Linked DNA regions of Homo sapiens: region 2 is linked to region 1. Evidence: fine-mapped expression QTL. Tissue or cell type: prefrontal cortex. Region 1 holds a variant in brackets; the other region holds the start of a gene. All regions are shown on one strand. Distances are from middle to middle.

Region 1 (2,752 bases):
GGGGGTCAGCAGGCACTGGAAGCTTCCAGGACCGCCCCACCCACCAGGGCCGCCCCTCAGCTCTGTTTCAGGACCTCGGCCTGGCTGGGCACTACAGCAGCCATGCCCCCGCTCCTTCTTATTTTTTTGTTTTTTTGAGATGGAGTTTTGCTCTTGTGACCCAGGCTAGAGTGCAATGGTGCGATCTCGGCTCACTGCAACCTCCGCCTCCCGGGTTCAAGAGGTTCTCCTGCCTCAGCCTCCAGAGTAGCTGGGATTACAGGCATGTGCCAACACGCCCGGCTAATTTTTGTATTTTTGGTAGAGATGGTGTTTCACCCCATTGGCCAAGCTGGTCTCGAACTCCTGACCTCAGGTGATCTGACGGCCTTGGCCTCCCAAAGTGCCGGGATTACAGGCATGAGCCACTGCGCCCAGCCGCCCCTGCTCATTCTCATGGATGAACATGAACAATTAGCTTGTCCCCTTCTCTTCCCTCCTAAAAAAAACACCTTACTGGAGTGTGAGAACACCCAGAGGACATTAGAGGATCTGGGCGGAATGGAGATGTGGCAGCCCCTGCTGAGCCGTCCCGGGATCTGCGCCCGCTCTTCATGCTTGGGAATGTTCCCAGCCCCCCACTGCCCACCATAGCCTGGGAGCCCAGGGCCTCCCGGGAATGGGGCAGGGCGCTTCCTGGTGCTCAGCACACCTAGCCCAAGAGCCTCATTCCGAGAAGCTGCATCCTGGGAAGATGCTGTGGCAGAACGTCGGGCCTGTGCAGGTTGGCGGGGGTGACGGAGAGCTGTCTAGGGTTGCCCTCACCCCTGCCCTCGCCCTGGCTGCCTGGCTGGCTTTGGAACCTACAGCAGGAGGGTGCTGGGAGGGCATGGGGCGAGGGCCTTGTAGCTTTTCACGGCCGTGGGTGTCACAGCACTCCAGTAAATTGTGACCCTAATGGAGAGGATGGCCTTTGGAAACGAACTGCATTGAGAAGGGGGATGAAATTAATGAGATAATAGCAGGGCCAAGGACCCGGAGCGCGCGTCTGCCCTCACGGAAGGCTCTGTAATTCCTTTTCCGCAACGGGAGCTGCAGATCTAAAGGCCTCTCCCATCCGTCCGGCAGGCCCACGCTGCCAGGAAATTTCATTAACGCTGGAAAATAGGAAAGGTATTAAGCGTGGATAATGAAGGCCAGGGAGGGAACAGTGCCTTAAGATAGTCTTCTTTCTCGCCTTTGTAATGGGAGGCATGAACTTTCCCTTCAAATCCATTTCTAATCCATTTGAAATACTACAGCAAATTATCTTTCCTTCAGCCCAAAAGCAGCCAGCCAATTTACTCCGAACAGAAGTGACAATGCCCCAGGATTTATCACCATAACCTTGACTACACCAGGGCGAGGCTGGGCCTCCCCTCTCCTCCCTGGGGGGGGACAAAGGCCAGGAGGGGGAGATAACATTTTAAATGAAAAGCAGCAGTAATGGGGAGAAAGACACACACACTACAAAAGCAGGTGTATGAAGAAGCTGTCTGTGCAGTACTGCCTTAGGAGTAGCTGGAAACTTGCAGGCCAGAGGCTGCCCGGGCTGGCGAGGGGCACCACAGGTGCCCAGAGGGCTGAGCCCAGGCCCTCCTGTCTCTGAAAGCCCCTGTCCTGCCTCAGCCTGGGCCCCTCGGACCTGCTGAGTGCTGCCAGCCTC[G/A]CTAGGCACAGGTAGCAACAGTGGGGGCCGGGCGGACCTCTGGCTCTCGACCCTCAGGGACTCCTGTCACCTGTCCCCAGGACTTCAGTGGTGCTGGGGGCCTGGGCAAGATGGGAGAGAGGCTCACTCTGAGGTCTTGGTTTTCCTGAAAGCCCAGGGGCAAACCTGGTGCATCCCCTGCCGGCATCCACAAGGCATGCCCACGCACAGCCTGCCAGCTGCCAGGCTCCCGGGCCTGCAAGCCCTGGCCTGGGCCACTGCTGCCAAGTGGCCCATGCAAGGACTCTGAGGACCAACCCTGGACACCCACACTCTACCCACTCCGAGGGCACTGCCCGTGGCAGGTCAGAGCAGCCCCCGCGCCATGTCATGTGGGCCGTGCAGGCTGAGAGGGGCCTCACCCCAGGCCACGTCATTGATCCTGGGCACAGATGCACACATACACGTGGCCCAGATCAGTGGCCTCGCAGTCAGGGCAGTGCATGCACAGCAAGCAGGCCCAGTGCACTGCCTGCCCCCAGGGTGACAGCCTCAGCACTTGCGCTCCCAGCAGCAGAAGCCCCAGCTCAGCAGAAACACATCTGACAAACCAATGCGGCTCCTCGGGTGAGTCCAGCCCTCTGAGCACCCGGGCCCTTTCAGGTCCTGCTCCCTGCCATGGGCACTGCCTGCGGTGTCTCCGTGCCATGCGACCCAGCTCTGAGACCAATCAGAGAATGCTGGGCCTGGTAGTCAGCGTGACTGGCACACTGGCATGGCAGGAAGGCTGGGGAAGGGGCCCGGTCTCTTGACTCAGGCAGAGGTGGTAAGGGGACTGGGGGAGGCCTCCTCCACCCTAGAGACCCGGGAAGCAGCCCAGCACCCAGGATGCCCCGGCGGGACACACACTGGTGGGACCCGAGGGTCCAGGCCACAGACAGGCAGCTTTTAAGCCCAAAAGCTGTATCTTCCGATTGCCCAGTCCCACAGCACCTTCAGACACATGCTGCCCAGGACACCCTCCCTGAGGCTCTGTGGCTTGTTCAACAGGGTCTTCCAAGGCCTTGGGTCATGTGGCCAGGGGTTCGA
Region 2 (2,752 bases), 200 kb after region 1:
AGATATAGAGATGACCATGAACAATTATCAATCATTATTATAAACATTATTAATCATTAGCTTTTACCATTACTCTTTGTTGCATTACTAATATAACCTAGGAATAACCGGCGGATATAGGGTCGGGTGCTGAAGGGACATGGTGAGAAGTGACCTAGAAGGCAAGAGGTGAGCCTTCTGTCACTCCCACATCAGGGCTGCTTGAGGGCTCCTTGGTCAAGCCCTAACGCCAGTGTCTGGGAAGTCACCCGTTGCTTAGTAGACTGCGAAAGGGAGTCTCCTTTCCTTGGAGGAGTCAGGGAACACTCTGCTCCACCAGCTTCTTGTGGGAGGTTGGATATTACCCAGGCCTGGCCGCAGTCATCCGGAGGCCTAAACCCCTCCCTGTGGTGCTTCAATGTTCACGCTCCTTGTCCACTTTCGTGTTCCTCCTGTACTCCTGGTTCCTCTTTGAAGTTCGTAGTCGATAGCGGTAGAAGAAATAGTGAAAGTCTTAAAGTCTTTGATTAATGCTAACTTATGCTGCCTTCTCTCTCTGCTTCCGCTACCTAAGAGGGAAGGGCCCCCTGTCCTGTAATCATGTGACTTGCTTCACCTTGTCAATCACTTAGAAGATTCACCCTCCTTACCCTGGCCCCTTGTCTTGTATGCAATAAATATCAGCGCGCCCAGCCGTTTGGGGCCACTACCGGTCTCTGCGTCTTGATGGTAGTGGTCGCCCGGGCCCAGCTGTTTTCTCTTTATCTCTTTGTCTTGTGTCTTTATTTATTACAATCTCTCATCTCCGCACACGGGGACAACACCCGCTTAGCCCCGCAGGGCTGGACCCTACACCCTTGATTGGCTGGAACTGGGTGACTGGCAGGAGAGCAAGTGACAGTCTGTTCACACCTCCAGTTAGGTTACAGTTCACTTTGTAGGATAAACCTTTAGGCCGACTTTAGGTTATGAGGGCCGGGATCGGTGGTTCACGCCTGTAACCCCAGCACTTTGGGAGGCCAAGTCAGGCGGATCACCTGAGGTCAGGAGTTCAAAACCAGCCTGACCAACATGATGAAACCCCCGTCTCTACTAAAATTACAAAAAAATCAGCCGGGCGTCGTGGCGCTTGGCTGTGACCGGGGCGGGGCCTGCCGGCTGCGGCGGAACCACAAGCGGTGCGGGGCGAGGCGGGCGGCCTGGACGGCCTGGAAGGCCAGCGCGCACCACCGAGACGTGGGCTCCTAGAGGGGCCGGAAGCTTTCGGATAACAACTTCCGCTCGGGAAGTTTGTAAAAGTCTGGGCTACCGGCGCGGCGTAGTGGATGCAGCATCCTAGTGGAGGACGCCCCTGTGGTGAGTGCGCCCGTGTCCCCCGCCGCCCCTCCGTCCCTGGGTCGTGGGCTGTCAAACCTTCTAATTCTGCGGCCGCCCCAGGGCTGTGAGACCCAGCGTCGCGGCTGCTGGGACAGACCGGGGAGGCTGCCCGTGCCCTCGGCTATTCGGGGGCTGTTCTTCAGCTTCTTCCGGCTCGGCCTCCTCTTCTCTCCTCGCTCCTTACACTTGCAGGTTTGTCAGGACCCGGTTGCGTATCCTCTTGAAGCTGGTTTCTTCCTGGCCGACCCCGTCCGCGATCGTGACCTTAGTTATCCCTCATAGACACTTTCCACACCTGTGTCTCCAGCCCTATCGCTCCGATGAGACCCGAGCGCTTAGACTTGATTCATAACACCCAAAGCTCCCCGGCCCCAGGCTGAGCTCCTGCAACCTCCACACCCCACCCTCTGGTCCTCCCAGGCATTCCACCGCGAAGGGGAGGAGGCAGAAACCCGAGATTCGCTTCTTCTCCTTTCCTGCCCACGCCCAGCCACACAGTCACTGGTGCGTTAGCTCCATAACTGAACCATTTGCCTCCTTGCCATTCCCACCCTGTAAGTCCCAATCCTGGCCGTCTTCCTCTCTCACCTGAACGCCTCCCTGTCTTCTCCCCACCCCCATCCTGTTTTGCTGCTTTCTCATTTGTTCATCACAGAGGATCTTTTATAAAATGTAGCTTAGCCAGGCAAGGTGGCTCCCGCCTGTAATCTCAGCTCTTGGGAGGCCGAGGCAGGTGGATCACTTGAGTCCAGGAGTTCTAGACCAGCTTGGTCAGCATGTTGAAACCTTGTCTCTACAAAAAATACAAAAATTAGCCGGGTGTGGTGGTGCACGCCTGTAATCCCAGTTACTCTGGGGAGGCTGAGGCAAGAGAATCGTTTGAACCCAAGAGGCAGAGGTTGCAGTGAGCAGAGATCGCGCCACTGCACTCCAGCCTGGGCGACAGAGCGAGACATCATCTTATTAAAAAAAAAAAAAAAAAAAAGGTAGCTTAGGCCGGATGCTGTGGCTGACGCCTGTAACCCCAGCACTTGGGGAGGCTGAGGCCAGAGGATCTCTTGAGGCCAGGAGTTTGAGATCAGTCTTGGCAACATAGTGAGACCCCGTTTCTGCAAAAAACTTAAAACAATTGCAGGGCATGTTGGCACATGCGCTTTTGGTCCCAGCTACTGGGGAGACTGAGGTGGGAGGATCACTTGAGCCCAGGAGGTCGAGGCTGCAGTGAGCTGTGATTGCACTACTGCATTCCAGCCTGGGTGACAGAGCAAGGACCTGCCTCAGAGAAAAAAAAATCCTGTGTTAATTTGCCTAGGGGAAAAAAAGTAGCTATGACAATATCCTTCTGTTCTCCCGTATTAAACTTTGTTGCATTACACATGAAACCACGGCTCAGGAG

Which allele goes with the higher level. Alleles are on the strand shown, and positions count from the first base shown. SD is a standard deviation of normalised expression in the study named.
For the expression in prefrontal cortex of the gene that starts at base 1,272 in region 2, A is the high allele of the variant in region 1 and G is the other (large effect, 1.1 SD a copy in ROSMAP).

Evidence for each region. PIP is the estimated chance that this variant, and not a neighbour inherited with it, causes the effect.
Region 2: it holds the start of ZNF707, and the variant in region 1 is fine-mapped to the expression of ZNF707 in prefrontal cortex (ROSMAP, PIP 0.91).

Annotation. Positions count from the first base shown.
Region 1 is chr8:143,478,391-143,481,142 of GRCh38, forward strand. The region is part of intron 4 of ZC3H3 (zinc finger CCCH-type containing 3); the gene reads right to left. Among named protein-coding and RNA genes, the nearest start is that of SNORD149, 26 kb to the right of the region's middle. RefSeq lists an enhancer at 693-1,193. The variant G/A (reference allele first, on the strand shown) is at 1,685.
Region 2 is chr8:143,683,208-143,685,959 of GRCh38, forward strand. ZNF707 (zinc finger protein 707) reads left to right here and starts at 1,272. Exons shown (of 6, transcript NM_001100598.2): 1 at 1,272-1,335.